2 separate regions of the Homo sapiens genome follow, and region 2 is linked to region 1. The links come from fine-mapping of genetic effects on gene expression. A gene starts in region 1. The other region holds a variant in brackets. All regions are shown on one strand. Distances are between the middles of the regions. Region 1 holds the start of B3GNT5 (UDP-GlcNAc:betaGal beta-1,3-N-acetylglucosaminyltransferase 5). Region 2 overlaps MCF2L2 (MCF.2 cell line derived transforming sequence-like 2).

What was found. PIP is the estimated chance that this variant, and not a neighbour inherited with it, causes the effect.
Region 2: its variant is fine-mapped to the expression of B3GNT5 in blood mononuclear cells (TOPMed, PIP above 0.99). The same link has a PIP of 0.9 or more in monocytes, spinal cord, tibial artery and tibial nerve.

The regions. Positions count from the first base shown.
Region 1 is chr3:183,248,724-183,258,226 of GRCh38, reverse strand. It overlaps B3GNT5 (UDP-GlcNAc:betaGal beta-1,3-N-acetylglucosaminyltransferase 5), which reads right to left and starts at 4,974. Exons shown (of 2, transcript NM_032047.5): 1 at 4,755-4,974. All of the region lies in intron 15 of MCF2L2 (MCF.2 cell line derived transforming sequence-like 2), which reads left to right. LOC124906310 (a long non-coding RNA gene) reads right to left here and starts at 9,010. Exons shown (of 3, transcript XR_007096189.1): 1 at 8,657-9,010; 2 at 7,362-7,443; 3 at 5,672-5,692.
Region 2 is chr3:183,207,571-183,217,073 of GRCh38, reverse strand. It overlaps MCF2L2 (MCF.2 cell line derived transforming sequence-like 2), which reads left to right. Exons shown (of 30, transcript NM_015078.4): 22 at 980-1,105; 23 at 9,251-9,466. Among named protein-coding and RNA genes, the nearest start is that of B3GNT5, 41 kb to the left of the region's middle. The variant AG/G (reference allele first, on the strand shown) is at 4,390.

The DNA.
Region 1 (9,503 bases):
TGGGAGGCCGAGGCGGGCGGATCAGGAGGTCGGGAGATCAAGACCATCCTGGCTAACATGGTGAAACCCCATCTCTACTAAAAACACAAAAATTAGCTGGGTGTGGTGGAGCATGCCTGTAATCCCAGCTACTCGGGAGGCTGAAGCAGGAGAATCGCTTGAACCCAGGAGGCGGAGGTTGCGGTGAGCCGAGATGGCACCATTGCACTCCAGCCTGGGCAACAGAGCGAGACTCCGTCTCAAAAAAAAAAAAAAAAAAAAAAAAAAAGGGTGAAGTGGAGGGAGCAAGGAATAAGACATTCCAAGAGAGACTACGCAGGAATTTTTTTTAAGCACATAAGAGAAAAAGTTGTGGCTTGAGTGGGGAAATGTCAAATCACTTAGTTTGGCTAGAAGTTAGGGTAAAGGGAAAAAACGGAAAAAAGGAGATCAGAAAGTTTAGCTGTGGTTGAATAATAATAAGAAAAACCAGGATTCAGAAACAGGATGACGATATAACCCAGTGTCTGCCTGTTGCCCAGTGGCAGTTCCTACGTCCCATTCTGGACATTGTCTTTAGAAGCAACACTTGATAGAGGGTTTATAACACAGAGGTACAAAAAGTAGAAGATGGTGTAAAACAAGAGGTATATGTAACATGTTTCTGTCTTGGTGGATCAACATTTAGTCTAAGTTAACTACCATTTATTAAGTGCCTGCCCTATTCTAGGCATTACAGCGGGCAGCCCTGAAAGTAGGTTAATACGTATATTTAACTAATTCAACAAACATTAACTTATCACATACTGTGTAGTAGGCCATGGGCAGGATAGGATGCTAAAAAGACTTCAGAGATGTTTCAGGTGTAGCTCTTCTATCAAAGGGTCAATAAATATTCCAGTGCAAGCTGGAATCTGGACCTGATGGTGGTGAAAGAGAGTAAAAAAGCCGAGAGTGTTTAAATGCCAACAAAAGTAGATGTATACTGTGCCTCTCCATTTACTAGTCACATGAGCTCGACTTGTCTCTAAACCATGTACCAGTGTTTTCTCAGGATCATTTGAGATAACTTGTTGACAATGTCAGTCCAGATTAGATGTTCCATCTGTGCAAATTTCCTTTCTCTAGAATCTGTTTGTGTAGCTTTACCAGGATGGGTTAGTTAATGGATGGCTGATTTTTTTTTCAGGTTTTTTTCTTTTTAGAATACTGAGCTATACTCATAATATGCTTCTTCTCAAAAAACATTAATTAGGTAGGAGTTTTTAAAAATACTGATCTGATGGCTAAGGGCCATTTAACACATCGCAAATACTGTTGAGGCAGAAGTATCATCCCTAATTGACTGAATATGGTCCTTCTCATGTTCCCCATTATTCCATTAATGGAATAACGGTCTTCCGTTATTCTTGTTCCCACAAGCACTTAAAATACATTTCAATTAGGATGACACAGGTATAAGATTATATGGTCCTCTAAAGTAAGAGAAGGAAACTTGAGGTGAGTCCATCCTTGAACTTACTTTGCTTAGAGCACTATGAAAAAGTTATAGGAAGTTATAGGAAAGGAGCAAAAGAGTCAAATCTGAAATATTAGGTGGATCTTAGGCTGTAGAACAGTATTTTGAACTTGAACTTTTGGGCTTTGTTGCCTACACACTTGGTAGAACATTCTCTTTTGTAGAGAACTGGCTTCTAGTGTTAAAGCCTTCTATGGAAGAGAAATCTGAATAAGTTACATATCAAAGCCAGCAACTGAATTTGTAGAATTAAAATGTTTCTAAAAAATCGCTTTTTTATTCAAATCTTGTATCTCACCTGATCAAGTTTCTTATCCTTTAAATATAAAGATTCTTACATCCCCTATATATATGTAAACTAATACATAATAATTAGATATTGCATACCGTAAGGAAAGTAATTCTAGATTTACACTGTTCTGGTTACATCTTCGCTCACAGAGATTCGATATCAAAGGGCAGAGCTCTTGTAATTTACTGTGCCTCAGTTTCTGGAACACAGATACAATGAATTCCTCTCCTTACAAGGTTATTCTAACAATGCATTAAAATAATGGCTATGGAAATATTTCAGAAAAGGCATAATGTATTATAAAAATTCAAAGCTGAGATCTATTTACTTCAGCATATATAAAATTCCCCCTGAATAGGGGACATTTTGTTACTCTGAGAAGAGACAATTTCCCTCTGAATTTCTCCCAGTTTCTTCCTGATACCTCCTGTGTTCTGAAATGCAGATTCTAGTGCAATTGGGCCTCAGAAAGAACTGGACCCTTTACAATGTGAAAGTCACCAAGTGCAATGATTCTAGCCAAAGTGACCCATTTTAAAAGATGACCCATTTCAAAACCCATGAGTTATTATTCAAGCTGTTCTATTTTTGAGAATTAGAAAGTTTTCTTTTTCTTTTTTTTTTTTTTTACAATCTCACCATTTGAATGTCTTTTATGAAAAGAGAAAACTGATCACCATTTTAATGAAATACAATGTTTCATTTTTTACTTGATGGGGCCTGCACTTTATTTTGAAAACTCTTCTGCACCTTCTGAGTTTTCTCTGGGCAGAGCAGTTATAAGCATCTCTACCTCCTACTCATCCTCATCTCCCACTTTCTCAGGAACAGCTGCTCTGAGCTTTGGCTTGGGCCTTTCCTGTGATAACACTGGTTCTACCTTAGAGCCTTGCAGGGCCGGGAAGGGTCAGCCTGAGTCAGCCTCCTCCTCAGAGTGCTCAGTCAATGCTCAGAGCGTGTGCGGGAGGATAAGGAAGAGTGAGAAGGACAAGCAGGTTAAGTACAGAATGGAAACCTTTCTGGTATTGCGTTTAGCTTGCTTTAAAAGCAAAGAGTTGGCCCCAAAAAGCAGCTTTCACCTCCTCACTTGTGACCAGATAGAAAATCTACCATAAATTTATTTTGAGAAAGTTATAACGTCTGCTGCTGATCACTAATCACCCTTTCAGAAAGTTCAGGGTGGAATCATTTCGGTGCCACCACTTAATACAACTACCTTCAATCATCCTTTTCTGGGTCAACTTCGGCTTTTCACATTCCTCTCCCATCCCCCACAGGGAACAGGCAAGGTTTCCCAAAATAAAGGCACAGACGCACAAATCCAATTCTGATGGATGTACTTTCATCAGATAATTACCATAAATATGAGCCTCAGGCCACCATCGGCCACTGTGCGGTTACCACATCGGTGTACCTTTAACATGATCCATAACCTAAGAAAACCAACACCGGCCAAGAATGTACAGGGTGTAGTCAAGAGTCGAGTTGAAAACTGTTACTTTTACCTATATGGTATCCAAGCAAGCAATTGCCTCTGTCACATCAGGATTCAAAATGAAATGAGGCAGAGTCAAAGGAAAGAGTGGCCACGACCTCCCCGCCAGGGAGATCTGCGGCTGCAGTCTCCCCGCCTGCCCACTTCCCTGTCCCCATTTCCCCCGCCAGTAACTCGCCGAAAGCGTTCTCAGGTTGGCGGTTTCTTCTTTCCAGCCCGACACGGGCTTTCGACTCGAATTCAGCCCTCCAGCCGGAGGCGGGTGGCCGCAAGCCTGGGGCCCCCGGCCGGCAACCGAATTGGTGGGCGCGGCGTTCGCCTCGCGGCTCCCGCGCACGGGCCTGTCCCGCCACCGAGGAGCCGGAGCTCCTCAGGGACGGGGACCCGCAGGCCCCGGGAAGCCGCCCCAACCGGAGCTGCCCGGCCCCCGAGCCTACCTGCCGCACCTGGGCGGCGGCCCGGCCTGGGTCCCAGCCGCTGGCCACCCGCGCGGGCAGGCCGGAGGGAACAAAGGCGTTCCGGGGAGGGGACGAGCCTCCTTCTCCGCCGCGCTTTCAGAGGGCGGGCTGCCGGGGCCCGCGGTGGGAGAGGCCTCCCCGGCTTCCCGACTTCCCGGCGCTGGGCCGTGCGCGGTCCGGGCCAGGGCGGCGGGCCCCGATCCGGTGTCCACGCCAGCCACGCGCCCCCGGCCCAAGCGCGCGTTCCCACCTGAAGTCCTGGCGCCACCCGCCGGGCGAGGGCCGGCGTGCCCTCACCTCCTCGCCACTCTTCTCCTCCAGAGACCTCGCTCGGCCCGGAGTGGGCAGACTCGGAGCCTCCCGCGCCGGAGACCGCGAGCCGCTCGGCCGAGGAGGCGCGGCGGGGCGGGGGCGGGGCGGAGGGGCCGGCCCGCAGCCCCCAATGCCGGGAGCCCGCGCTGGAGACCCAGGGAGCCCAGCTCGGGGCCGCGGCACGGAGAACGAACCATCCGTGGCCTGGAGACGTATCCCGCCGAGCGGCCAGAACTTTCCCCATTTAGCGATCCGGAAAGGAAGCCAACACTCCCACCCAGAGAGGCCTCGGCCGCGGAAAGATGCGGCCGCGGCACAGCCGTGTTTTCACCACGTAACTGACCACAGACTAACTCCGCGCGGAACCACCGGCCCAGGGCGCTCCGCCAAGAGGCGGACTGTGCTGGCCTCGCGGGCCCTACGCCCAGGGAACGCCGCGGTTCCTCCCACACGGGACACCGGTTCCGCAGCGCCGCGGATTAGGATGGTCTTTTACTTTCCGAGCGGGAGCTCTAACGCAGGCTCAGGCGGGTCTTGTTAAAAGGTTTCTGGTCACACCACTTATGCGTGGAGCTCTGGGGGCCTCAGTAACAAAGTAAGGAAACTTACAGCAAACTAGGGCTGCACTGCCGCTGTCCGTTTCTAAAATACGAGAAGAGGGGGAAACCCCGCCCCAGGCCAGCTTCCCAGTGACTTTACCTCCAAGTCCAGCTTCATTTCAAGGGCAGTTTAGAGCGAAACTCACGAAGTTCAAGCCCAGCTCTTTAAATGTCCAAATCGGAGGTCGGCTTTCCTTCCCGCATCGGAGCTAAAGTCGCTGGTCTCAAGAACAAAACTTGCGGGCTTTAAATCTTGGGCGAGGACTGGACGGGCAGCGCTGGACTGGGCTCGCTTCCCCGGCGGGATGCGGGCTGTATGCGGGCGGGATGGGGGCGGGCCCGGGCGGGGGCGCGAGGCTCCCAGCCGCGCGCCCCGCACTCTCGGCGTCACGGCCCGAGCCCGGCCCCGCCCGCCAGCCGCCACCCTCCCGGCGCGTAGGTGAAGGTGATGGGCCCCGCCCCAGTTTGTTCTTGTCTGTAGATGAGAATTCCAGGAAGTGTTTCCCTGCCGCTCGTCAGTTAATTGCGATCACTTACTCAAATGGCCAACTGGAAGCCAGAGTGCACATGAATGTCCTCTTTGAGCTATTTTCCTCCTTTAGAATACTTCATGCAGGTAACCAGACAATATCGAGAGATGCGGACTTCTACTCAACGAGAGAGATTATAAATGAATCCTGGATGCGCTTGATTTCTTGTTTCCCGCATGTTGTTAGACCTCTCCCTAAAGCCACAAAACATTTAACGGAGATAATATTTTGAGCGATTCTGTTATTGTACATATTTCAGAACATGACAGAAAAGCAAAAGATTAACCCAAATACTTTAGTAAAATAAAAGCTTTGAGTTTGTCGTAAAAGGAACAAGACAGGTAATGAGTTAAATGTATGATTGTCGAATCAGGGTTTAAAACAGTGGGGCCAGCAGACACGGTGGCTCACACCTGTAATCCCATCACTTTGGGAGGCTGAGCCGCAGGAGGATTGCTTGATCCCAGGAGTTAGAGACCAGCGTGGCCAACATAGCAAGACCCCATCTCTAAAAGAAAAAACACACACACAAAATGAAAACTGTTGTTCATTCAAACTAGATTTTTAGGAAGTTTTTAAATTGCTTTCCTTAAGCTGGTCAGCATCTTTTAAATCATGCAGTTCTTTTCATATGCTGCCTACACAGGGCATGGCTCAGCATCTCCCAGACTGTGGCACTGCATGTTCATCAGACCACAGACAGAAATATTTACATGTGTGATTTGCAAAGGAGTCATTGACAGTGACCCACAAATAAGCTGATTCATTGTTAATACAGCACTAATGACATACCTTCTCTAATAAAATGCTGACTGAAATCCCACATGCATTTCCCCCAGCCATCACATGTGTATGTTGTATATCTGTGCAAATATTCAATTACAATTATATTCCTTTCAGATCATTTGGAGCTAGGTCCATGTGTCAGTATACATATGTTCCACATACATGAGCACATAGAACTGTACCCACGAGAAATACAAACTGACCAAAACAGTGGTAGACACACATACAAATCACATATTCACATCATACTAGATACAGATAAACACACCAGATAGATAAATGGTTTCAAAAGTATGTCTGGAGATTGGAAATACGATGCAAGTTTTTTGGTGGTAGGAGGGAGAGATGAGAGGGTGTGAAGGAGAGATAGGCAAGGTCAAGTAGTCCAGAATGCCCACTCTGGGATCCACACAAGCTCAGATCACACATGCGAGAGGACAGGCAAGTCCCCTTTGCTTGTTAGGGAAGATTTCCTAGAGCAGCCTGGCTTCCTGTCCCACCCAGAGAGAGGGGAAGAGAATGACAGATTTGATGGTATTGATGGTGCTATGCTCAGTTACTTTTATCAAGAGGGAGTGCATGAAGATATTGAGATGTGTTAGAAATAAACTTAGGTAATAATAATGATGCTGACTTGGCCAGCATGAAGAAGGAGGACCGTGTTGGCATGCTTTCCTTATCCAAGTAGCAGCTGGTAAGCAGAGAGCCCTGTGATTAGATCTATACATGACTTTGGAATGACCAAAATCTGCATGTTAGACTCGGCAGGGATAGATAAGGCACAGAAAGAGCAGAGGAGTAGCAGATTTAGGAGAGATGATCAGAGAGTAAGGCACATGCATCATTAGTAGTGGGGAGGGGAGACTAAACCCTGAGTACAAGAGAACCTGGGAGATGGTGGGAGCAACAGGGGCCCAAGGAAGAGGCCTGTGTTACTAAAATCATGAAAGGAGAAGCAGGTCTGATAACCGAGTGGCTTAACACAGCTGAAGTGTAGCAGCAGTATCAGGCTTGACCTGTTTAGCGAAATTTGTCTTTCTGGATTCTGTTAGACCAGATTTCCTCACAGGCCCTATAGGGAACCTGTCCAGTGAATCTGTGAATTCAAACACATCACGGGCCATGTATTCTGAAGCAGGCCGGTGTTCATTCAAGGCCTGGGCTGTTAGAGAGACTCTGGTTGTTTCCTGACCTGGCTTCCTACACAGGATCTCTGGCAAGTTAGCAAACTTCTCTGTGCCCACAGTAATACCTGCCTGCAAGGGTGGGTGAGGATTAGTGCAATCGCAGTGACGGGTGGAGTGCTGAGCTCAGAGCCTGGGCTATCCCAATGGGCGGATGAATGGTCAGCATCCTTGAGCCCATCACAGGTTGCAGAAAGCTCCTCTCACCTGGCAGAGGTAGGCTCATGCTGTGTCCTGTCATCGTGCTGTAAAGGATCTGCTGTGTTTCACACCTCTGGGAATTTCACATCTGTTGATACAGCATCACCATTCAGACGATGCCCTATCTCCTTGGCTCCGCCGCCTCTTTCTCTGCCCCCCGGCCACCTCCCACCACACGCAGCCTTCCTTGGTGTTCTCTTCTCCGCACACATGCTCCTTGCTGATCTCACCCATTGTCTTTAATCTTGACTTACATTTCTTTCTTTTTTTTTTTTTTCTTTTTTTGAAACGAAGTATCGCTCTGTCACCCAGGCTGGAGTGCAGTGGCACGATCTCCTTTCACTGTAACCTCTGCCTCCCGGGTTCAAGTGACTCTCCTGCCTCAGCCTCCCGAGTAGCTGGGATTACAGTCATGCACCACCACACCTGGCTAATTTTTTATATTTTTGGTGGAGATGGGGTTTCACCATGTTGGCCAGGCAGGTCTTGAACTCCTGACTTCAAGTGATCCGCCCGCCTCGGCCTCCCAAAGTGCTGGGACTACAGGCGTGAACCACCGCTCCCAGCCCATCCTGATTTATATTTCTAGCCCAGATTCTCAGCTTCAACCTTAAGTGTCTTTGGGTATGTCACATCAATCTTCAGCTTAATATGTCTAAAATGGGATGTATAAATATGGGATTGGGAAATGGTTAATGGACAGGACTTGAATGCCCCAAAAGCAAGAATCCTCCTTTTTCTCACCAGTGACCCAGCCCAGGCTGTTATGTGTCAGTAACAGTCAGTAGTATTTTGTCACTGTATAAGTTATATGTCTTTTGCCTCAACTAGCTGTGGGGAGGGGAAAAAAGTTGTATGTCTGTTTTCCCAACTACTTTGAAAGTCTTCAGATCTCTTGTGGGTGGACACCATGCCCTGCTCTTCTCTGAGTCTCTCAGAGACTCCCCGTCTCCTTGCCACCCTCACAATAATGCCTGTCACAGAATGAATGCCTGGTAACTGCAGGTTGAATTGAATTTTTGCATAGCACTTCCACACTCATCAATTATTCAAACTTTTGTTCCAAGAATCCCATCCGTAGTACAGTGGCCCTGTGTACGTCTCCTTTGATGCCACCAAGGCCCAAAAGCTGACGCTGGAGACACACTAGCTCTTTGCTGCAGCTCCTGCTACTGCTTCTATGGCCTGGCACCCTTCAGCATCCTCCCTCAATTCCAGGGCCTCAGCAGTTTGATGAAACCACACTAGGTACACCCAGAACTGGAAGGTGAAGGGAACTGACAGCACAAGGCGGCACTCACCCGCAGGCCACTCTGAGAACCCGGTTTCTTCCATTTTCTTCTCTTCTGCATGGGGGAGGGGCCTCCTGGAACTGATCATCTCCTTCACACCAACGCATAAGGAAATCTCTTATGTGCCATCTGACACTCAGTGGGGCCTCTCAGGGACAGGGACAGGGACAGTTTCGGAGGGGCAGGCCCTGCTGGCTGGGACCCTCCCTGGTCCAGTAGAGCTGTGCTGTCAACCCTCCAACAGCCCCTGTGAAAATGGCCTGATACCAGCCCCTGGCAGTGAGTGTCTCAGCATTTCTTCTCCTTTTCCCAGCAGCAGATCAGACACACACTCCACACTCCCGGAAGCATACAGGGTTCTGTGCAGGTCCCAGAGGGCTGCCTCTAACTCAGCTCTTTCTCTCCTACTCAGGAGGGCACATGCAAATTGAGTGAGGGAGTGACATTTTTGTAGGAACAATCTTGAGTGCTGATTAACACATATTTTAAAAGACAATTGGCACTTAGTTTAGTCACAGCTATCTAAACTAAGCAAAACAATTTGTGTCCTGTGATGGGGTGGTACAGGGGGAAGGAAGACAATTACAGCCCCTGGAAATGATTATTGACAGCAAGATGGGGGCTACATGGCTGGCCCAGAGGCGATCATTTGTGTTGGGAATTTTGCACTTAGGTTTGGTTGTACTGATATTTATGGAACAACTAAAATGTAATTTTCTTTTTTTAAAAATATACATTTTTTTTGAGACAGGGTCTCGCTGTGTTGCTCAGGCTGGAATACAATGGCCGGTCACTGCTCACTCAGGCTTGACCTTCTAGGCTCAAGCAATCTTCCTGTCTCAGCCTCCTGAGTAGT
Region 2 (9,503 bases), 41 kb after region 1:
GCTCTGCCTGTCTCAGCCTCCCAAAGTGCTGGGATTACAGGCATGAGCCACCCGCCCGGCCATATGGTATTTTTTTTTTCAGTAAGCCCCAGGGAATAGGGGTATAAAAGAGAGAGAAGCCTATTTAAAAGGAGCTAGGTTTTTCCATGCTTTAAAAAAGCTAAATTCTGGCCAGGCACAGTGGCTTACGCCTGTAATCCCAGCACTTTAGGAGGCCAAGGTGGGTGGATCACCTGAGGTTAGGAGTTTGAGAACAGCCTGGTCAACATGGCGAAACTCCGTCTCTACTAAAAATACAAAAATTAGCCAGGCATGGTGGCGCACACCTGTAATCCCAGCTACTCGGGAGGCTGAGACAGGAGAATTGCTTGAATCCAGGAGGCAGAGGTTGCAGCGAGCCGAGATCGTGCCTCTGCACTCCAGCCTGGGTGACAGAGTGAAACTCTCTCTCGCTCTCAAAAAAAAAAAAAAAAAAAAAAAAAAAAAAAAAAAATATATATATATATATATATATATATATAATATATATACTTATATTTTATATAATATATAATATATAAATATTTAATATATATAATTAATATATAAACATATAATTATATATTAATATATAAATATTTAATATACTATATAAATATTTATATAATATATATACACATAAGAAACATATAGAATTCAGCTATATAGCTGAATTCTATATGTTTCTTATGTAGCAGGAATATAATTTCCATGATTTATGAACTTCATTCGTCACTAGTACAATGCACAGAGGTAGATGATTTTGCTTGTCTCTATGCCGTATACCTAAATCAGTAAGCATCTTTAGCCACCATGCTTTGGGAGCAGGGAGACAGATCAATATCCACCCTTCTCAGTCAGGGTTGGCTGGATCCCTGGCTCCTCATCTCTGTCCTGTTTTCCTTCTTCACTTTGCAGATGGTATACTTTTGATTTCCAACAAGGCATTTGTTTTCCACAGGATGGGCCAAAGAGAACCAAAGATTCAGCATTCTCAACTGAACTACAACAAGCTTTGGCAGTGATAGAGGATTTGATCAAGTCCTGTGAGTTGGCTGTGGACCTAGCAGCAGTGACTGAATGTCCGGTATGTTCCATAGTAGTGTTAGAGCATCTCACACAAAAGGCAGGTGCAATACTACACAGTGAGGAAATGCTCTGGCAAAGTCAGAGAGATCGTCTATGGTAAAGGAATTGGACTCTGAGGACAGTCGCCTAAATTGCTCAGTAAACCCGCACTACAAGATTCCAAGCTGTCCCTTGGCATCTTCAGGAATCTTGGATTTATTCCTCAGGGTTCTGAATGTGGGACTGACCCACTGTCTGGACAAACCAGAAAGTCAAGGGCCAGAACATATATGGGCAGAGGAAAAGTCCTGGAGGAGCAATTTATTTTCTAACTCATGGCACTATTAAAATAGTAAAAGATTTGTCTTCTTGTTTCAGAGTTTCTCTAAGAAAAGTATTTTGGAAACAGGTCCTATATTCTTGCCCCAATTTTATATCACAGATCCCAGAAGAGGCCCCAAAAGTATATAGTGTACATGCATTAATCCAAATAGTCTAAAGAAAACCCAAGAGATGCAGTTAGAGGCCAATGCTGGGGAGTTGAGCTCCAGCGTCAGTGTTAATCCGGAGCAGGCTGGTCCCAGGCATTCCAGGCAAAACATCCCCTATAACTGTATGATCTCTTTGAGACTGGAGCATAGTTAATATTCGACTTGTTTTGTTTTTTACTTTGAAGTACTCTAGATTTTTATTCAGATGTGTTTGTTTTATTTCACTGTCATAATAAATTACCATAAGCTTGGTGGCTTAGAGCAGCACAAATTCATTATTATTATTATTTTGAAGTTCCAAGGTCAGAAGTTCAACACAGTCTCATGGGCTAAAATCAAGGTGTTTCCTTTCCTTTTTGGAGTCTAGCATCTGTCTCCTGGAATTTTCCAGCTTAAAAAGGCCACCCACGCTCCATGGCTCATGGCTTCTATGAGCAGAGGTAATAAAGCACAAACCAGCAATGGCAGGTTGGGTTCTTCTTCTTTTTGTTTGTTTGTTTTTGAGACAGAGTCTTGCTCTGTCGCCCAGGCTGGAGTGTAATGGCATGATCTCAGCTCACTGCAACCTCTGCCCGCCAGGTTCAAGCGATTCTCCTGTCCCAGCCTCCTGAGTAGCTGGGACTACAGGCACTTGCCACCACACCTTGCTAATTTTTTTTTTTTTTTGTATTTTTAGTAGAGACGGGGCTTCTCCATGTTGGTCAGGCTGGTCTCGAACTCCTGACCTCGTGATCCACCCATCTCCGCCTCCCAAAGTGCTGGGATTACAGGTGAGAGCCATCGTGCCCGGCCAAGTTTTTCTTACATCACATCTCTGTGACCCCCTCTTCTGCGTTTTTGTCACTTGTGATTATATTATACTTTTTCCTTCTCTTTTTTTTTCTTTTCATTTTTATTTGGTTTTGAACATACCATGTATTGAGGTCTTGGTAGAGGAAATGACTTTTCTTTCCTTGTCATAAATCAAACCATGAAAGTTATTAAGGTCCGAAAAATGAGTTATTTTTACTTCCCACGCTGGTATTTCTTGGGCCTGGATCTCAGAAACTTAGCCCCATGGGGTTTGCTGTGATCCCAGCCATGATGCTGTTACTGTCCCCTGGGACTCCAAGGTGTCTCTGATGACAACTGATGCATGATTCAAGAGGATATGCATAAACTGCAGAGTAGGGTTAGGGTGTGTATAAGGATCATTTTCTTGGTAATAATTCTTCTTTCTTCGCCTGAGGAAAGTCAAGGGAACAATTTGTTAGGTCAATCCAGGGCATCTTTCTGTTCCTTTTTAAATCTTGAATTACGTATTAGACATCCCTATTAAATTTCATTTCCCTGAATCTAATGAATGTCCTGGAAACAATACACAGGGCAGGAAACAGTGTAAATAACATAGGAGGAGGAGGCTGTGAGAAAAGAATGGTTAAAACATGAGCAAATAACATTCTGCCCTAATTTCATTCCCAGCCAGTTTGCATGCAAATAGGATGAACCAGCTTACAGAATTTGGAGATTTTACACGCAAAAAGCAAAGGACCTTTTTTGACCATGTGTCCTCAGAATTGTGCCTCTGCCAGATGCTTTTTGGTACCTTTTCTACTAAGACTTAACTTACTTTTACATCTAATACATCAGCTAATTTCTCCTGACAGTTTTGTATAATCCTGTTGAATTATGGAGGAGTAGATATTGGAATTTTCAACCTTCTGATTCAAAAGAAGATCCATGGAAAGAAGAGTTAACTCACTCAAGATTACATGGCTGTCACCTTGGACTATTTCTTGTTCATTCCCTATCAGGGTGCTATTCCACTCTTTATCTGTTTCTGATTAGAATTGACTGACAACTGCCTCTAACTCAGCTCAAATGATTCTGAGATTCTTTGTCTCCATTTTGTAGAGTTTTATTACAGGTGTTTATGATCACCTGTAATAAATTACAGCTATATGCATGGCTGAGTCCAGTTTAACCTCTTAGTTTCTCTGCTTGAAATTTAATATTAACCTGGTTTTATAAAGGAAAGAAATTGAATGTGATAATTAAATTATCACAATTAAACAACTAGAAAGCAACTAGAAAAAAATCCCTTCTGATATTTATATTTTCTTGTTTTTCTGTGTACTCAATTAGTCCTGGGTCTAATTTAATCACAGAAGTTTAAAATTCTTTTCCAAACAAGTTTGTTTTGTGGAACACTGAGTTATAATTTACTTCTATCTATTTGCAAAAAAAAAACAAAAGTTTTTTTTTTTTTCAAATCCAATGCATATTAGAGATGCATTTAAATTCTGACTTGCCAGGGATAAGTTCCAAAGTTGACTTGTAAAGATTGAATGAAACAGTCTTCCTTTTTGGAACAAATTTATATAAACCACTAAAGGATGTACTTGTATTGTAAGTTCATTGTGAGCTAGGGCCAGGATTTTATTTCTATTTCAGTTTCCTCTTTCCTTACCACAGTGTTAGCTGCAGAGATAGGGCTAAGTAAATAATCCTAGTGACCCAGGCAAAGTATCTTCTTCATTCCCCACCCCCCCACCCCCCCCACCCCCCCACAATACCTATATTACAGGCGGTTGCCGGGAGTAAGTGAGAATTAAATGATGGGTAAGGCACCAAGCACTGTGCCTGGCGCCCAACAGATGCCGAATAAACAGCCCTAGTGGTACGTTATATGGGGACCTGCTCAAGCTGGAAAGGAAGATACCTCTTTGCCCCTGACTATTGTAATCACAGGCTCCCACAGCTTCTGCTTTTCATTTCTGGACTCAGGCTCTGTGTGGACGCATTTATACAGATGTTTCCTGCTTCTTTGTGC[AG/G]TAAGTTTGTGACAGTCATATTAACTCTTACTACCTGGAATGGAAACACGGGCACCCAAAAGAAGCTCTTGCTGAGGCCAGCTTCCCTAGATTCACTCTCTCAGCCAGACTCTTCATTTGGCCAATGTAGTCACATTTGAAATCCTTGTATCGGGGCTCTTACCTGCAGAATGCCCAGGTGTGAAAGTGGTAGCATTTACTAATTGATTTTGCTATCACTTCTTGTACAGAGGAGGCCATCTAACTTATCGCTCGCTCATTTGAGGTAGCCGCTATGTTCCATCTCTGAGTTCACAACCATCAGGTTCTTCCACACACCGTGTGACATGGCCACACTTCTTTGTTACTGGTGGAAAACAGTTGGAAGTATATTCGTTTCCTAGGGCTGATGTCGCAAGGAACCACAAAGTACGTGACTTAAAACAACAGAAATTTATTCCCTCACAGTTTTGACGGCTAGACGTCCAAAGGCAAGGTGAGAGCAGGCCCACGTTCCCTCTGAGGGCTCTCAGGAAGAATCCTTCCTTACCTCGTCTGAGCTTCTGGTGACTGCCGGCAATTCTTGGAGTTCCTTGGCTGACAGCTGTGCCACTCCAATTTCTGCCTCTGCCTTTGCATGGCTGTTCCCTCAGCGTGCGTCTCCATTTCTTTGTTTTCTTTTTTTATAAGGATACCAGTCATTGGATTTGGACCCATCCTAACCCAGGGCAACCCCATCTTAACCAATTGTATCTGCAAAGACCCTCTTTCCGAATAAGATCATATTTTGAGGGTCTCATAGACATGAGTTTTTGGGGGAACACTATTCAACCCAGTACAGGGGCGTCGCTGAATGAACTCCTTGGATAAATCAATATTCCCTCACAGTGATGAGTATTTTGTTTCCTGTCCCCTACTCCCAAGCACCACTAAATGCCAATAAATAAATAAATACTAGGGAATGCCAATAAATAAATAAATACTGGTGAACACGTATCTGAAAGAGGTTGTGCAACGTGGTCTCCGACCTTGAGATCAACTACAGTCTAGTTGGAAAGAAAAGGTACACGTGACGGAAAAGGTCATTCTTGCTCCTGCTCAGGGAATGTCCCTGCAGCTTCCTGTTGGAGGCGGAGCAGCTCCACACAGCACAGTGAACAGTGTGTGTGCCTGCCCTTGGTCAGCACCGTGTAGGGCATGTGCTCACCCGCTGGAGATCGGACCTTGGGCGTGGAGATGGGCAATACCGTCATATGTGTGGTCCTGAGAACATTTGTGCAACATGACCCAGAGGATATGTGCCCATATGTTTCTGCCAGACTTGAAAGACCCAGCGACTCCCCCCGAGTCACTTCCAGTAATAATGGGCTTACTGGAAAGCTGACCTGCAGCTTCTCAAGAAGTCACGATGGCAAAGCCAAGTTCGCGGAGATGGGAACTGAGCAAACCCAGGATCCACAGCACCTCTGGGGCCTGGGCCTGGGGAGGGAGCCGGGGTTCTTACCTGTGTGACCCGCCTGTATATGTCAAGTGCACCCACATGCCTGCTCGCCCCCCCTCTTACCACCTACTGACTGTTTTTTTCCCTTCCGTCAGTTTCTTCCTCTTCCTCATAATTTCTAATGACTCACCTTCTTCATAGTTCTGTTTCCTTCTCGTTTATTCCACTGCCTGCTTTCCCCTAAAGCATCTCACAGCCCCGTCTCCTGCTGGTCACCACTTCCTCCTGTTTTCTTCAGTTCAGGGAGAGATCACATTGCCAACCCCCAACCCTGGCACATTGTTTTTATGCTGGGGGCCCTATGGTCAGCTGCTGGTACCTCTCTGGATTCACATCCTCTGATTACTTGCCTATGAAGGTGCAGCAGCATGGCTGTGGATGGGGTGATGAGGAAAGTTCAGAGGTAATAAAGCACAAACCTTGCTGCCTGAGGCTGCCTCTTCAGCATTTCTGGTTGGGGCTGTTTCCTCTACAATAGCCTTGTGGATGCCTTAACTCACGTCACCCCATCTTCACAAGTCATTAGAGAGTGTACACCTCGACTTATTCCCCCTTCCCCTATCATCCTAGCCTCTTCTAGAATTACTTTGACAGCTGAGCCTCCACACTGACCAAATGTGTTCTTACAAGCAGCTTTACCTAAAACATGTTCCTCTTTCTATCATAGGGCGTGGTTGAGGATGTTGCTCAGTGACAACATATCACTGGGAGAAATGTTTCTTATGTCTTAGTAGGAATAGCTGTGCTTTTCCTGAACAACCGGTTTGTGTATGTCTTCAGACATAATAAATCGTACCACTCACCATGTTTCCCTCTGTATTGCTATTAGAAAGTCAGAGCCAAGTTTACATCAAGTTTAAATGGCTTTATTATATGCATTTTACATATAACCTCTTCATCTTTTCTTTTATCTTCTACACCTTCTGGAACAGTTCATCTGATTTATTGTCTTTATATTTAGGGATGGTGATCTCCCTATGTTGCCCAGGCTGGCCTCAAACTCCTGGACTCAAGTGATCCTCCTGCCTCAGCCTCCCAAGTAGTTGCGACTACAGGCAGGCGCCAAGCTCCCAACTTCTTTATTTTTTCTTCACCTTAATTCCCTCGGTTATTTTCTATCTGTCTATACTGTATATATTTCTGTAAGATGCGTCGAATGTTTAAAATGAGGTAGAGAGTGAATACATTGTAAGATAGAAACTACAAGTTTGAATATCCCTTAGCCAAAATGCTTGAGGCCAAAAGTGTTTTGGAGTTTTTTTTTTTTTAGGGGAGGATTGGAGTATTTGCATACGTACTGAGTTATGTTGCAGATGGAACCCAAGTGTAAACACGAAATTCATTTATGTTTCATGACACCTTATACACATAGACTGAAGGTAATTTTACATATTTTAAATAATTTAGTGCATGAAGGCCGGGAGCAGTGGCTTATGCCTGTAATCCCAGCACTTTGGGAGGCTGAGGTGGGCAGATCACCAGAGGTCAGGAGTTCGAGACCAGCCTGGCCAACATGCTGAAACCCTGGCTCTACTAAAAATACAAAAATTAGCCGGGCATGGTAATGCACGCCTGTAATCCAAGCTACTCGGGAGGATGAGGCAGGAGAGTCCCTTGAACTCAGGAGACAGAGGTTGCGGTGAGCCAAGGTCGTGCCACTCTACTGCAGCCTTGGCAACAGAGTAAGACTCCGTCTCAAAAAAATAAAAAATAAAAAATAATTTTGTGCGTGAAGCAAAATTTTGACTGTGTTTTGACTGCCACCCATCACATGTGGTCAGGTATGGAATTTTTCACCTCCAGTGTCATACTGGTTCTCAGAAAGTTCCAGATTTTGGAGGATTTCAGATTTTTTAAATTATGGATGCTCAACCTGTGCTGATAACATTTGTTTATGTGGCAAATATTAAGTATCTACTTCTACCAGTTGCCTTTACTAAAACATATTTCCTGCACTATTTATGTCGATATTGATTATGAATTGAATGGATTTAAAGGAAAAAGCAGTCACTAAGGTCTGTAGTGATTACATTTGAGTGGGTCCTTGATGGATGCAGATAGAGTGAAAAAATTCTCCAGGGTCCTCATGGACCTATCCACCCTTCTGTTTTGGAATGTGGTGAACTGTTAACACAGAACAGGAGCATTGGCTTTTAGGAAAGAAGGCCTCGTGGCTGGGAGTTTGAGGGTTTTATTCACCACAGTCTACATATGTAAATTTTCCAAAGAAGAAAATAGAAAATTAACATAGGAAATAACGCCATAGACACCATAGAAATGACTAGAGTTTATTGCTCTTGAAGTTTTTCTTTTAATGTTTCAGAAGTAAAGTCAATTCCTTTTTAAAAAAGATACCTAGAGTTTGCCCAACATATAAACAATAAATTATAAAAATGCCCAATCAATTATGAATGAAGTACATATTTCCAGTATTAACTCAGAAATCATAGGGATTGATCTCAGCTAGAGGTCACTTAGGGAGATTTCTTTGTCTTGGTCCCCTTCAAATAATTTGTTCCTTTTGGTGTTTTTATTCAGGGAAATGAATTCTTATCTGCTTTAAGCAATCGAAGTTTTGAAAAATACCAGATAAAATGCCTCGCTCCCAGCTCATCTTGGTCCACTGTCTTTTGAAGAGAGCTCAGAGAAGGCAGGGTCATCTCATTTGGACTTTCAACCAGACATATGACAAAGGCAGCCTTGCTGGTGGAGACAGGGGCATCACAGTTTATGCCTAGAGTCAAACAGACTTCTTAAAAATCTGTCATTTGGTATTATCTTGGCACTGTTGACTCACTCTGAAAAACTCAGAGTTGAATGCAGTTACTATTTCCATTACAATGTTGTGAAGATTAGATCACAGTAAACTTTCTCTTTTCAGAACAAGCTTCATTTTCTCAGGTCCTCATATACCTGAAGCAGAAGTTAGGATGCAGATGGAACACACAGATGCTCATGGGTCCGCAATGCAGCCAAAATTCTATCTCTACTGGACATAATTGAAATGTTAATTTCTTGTCCCTTTGAAGGAGACTGTCATGTATCAAACATAGCACAGAGGAAATTGAATTCTGCTAGTTAAAATTGAGTCAAAAATATCACAGTCCCCGTATCTCTAGCTCAAGCATTTCTAACATTCTTTATGTATAGCATTACCTTTCATAGCTGAATTGATTTCCTTATATAACTAAATGGCACCACGCTCAGTGAAGCTCAAAAAATTGTCGTTTTGATTTAGTGACAGACCAGCCTGAATAGCACTTTTAGAATTGTAAACCTCAAAGAAGCATGCTTTATAAAATTTGAAAACAGGCCACAAAGGCTTCTTTCTCTGTCAAGTAATTTTACAGCTTCTTTTCCTGTATGTGTGTTTCCAAAAGGACGATATTGGAAAACTAGGCAAGCTGTTGCTGCACGGCCCTTTCAGCGTCTGGACAATTCACAAGGATCGTTATAAAATGAAGGATTTGATTCGATTTAAACCCAGCCAGAGGCAAATCTACCTATTTGAAAGGGGAATAGTGTTCTGTAAGATACGAATGGAGCCTGGGGACCAGGGATTATCTCCTCATTACAGCTTCAAGAAGACCATGAAGGTAAAGGGAGTCCTATTGCATCTGGGAGTCGCCCTAT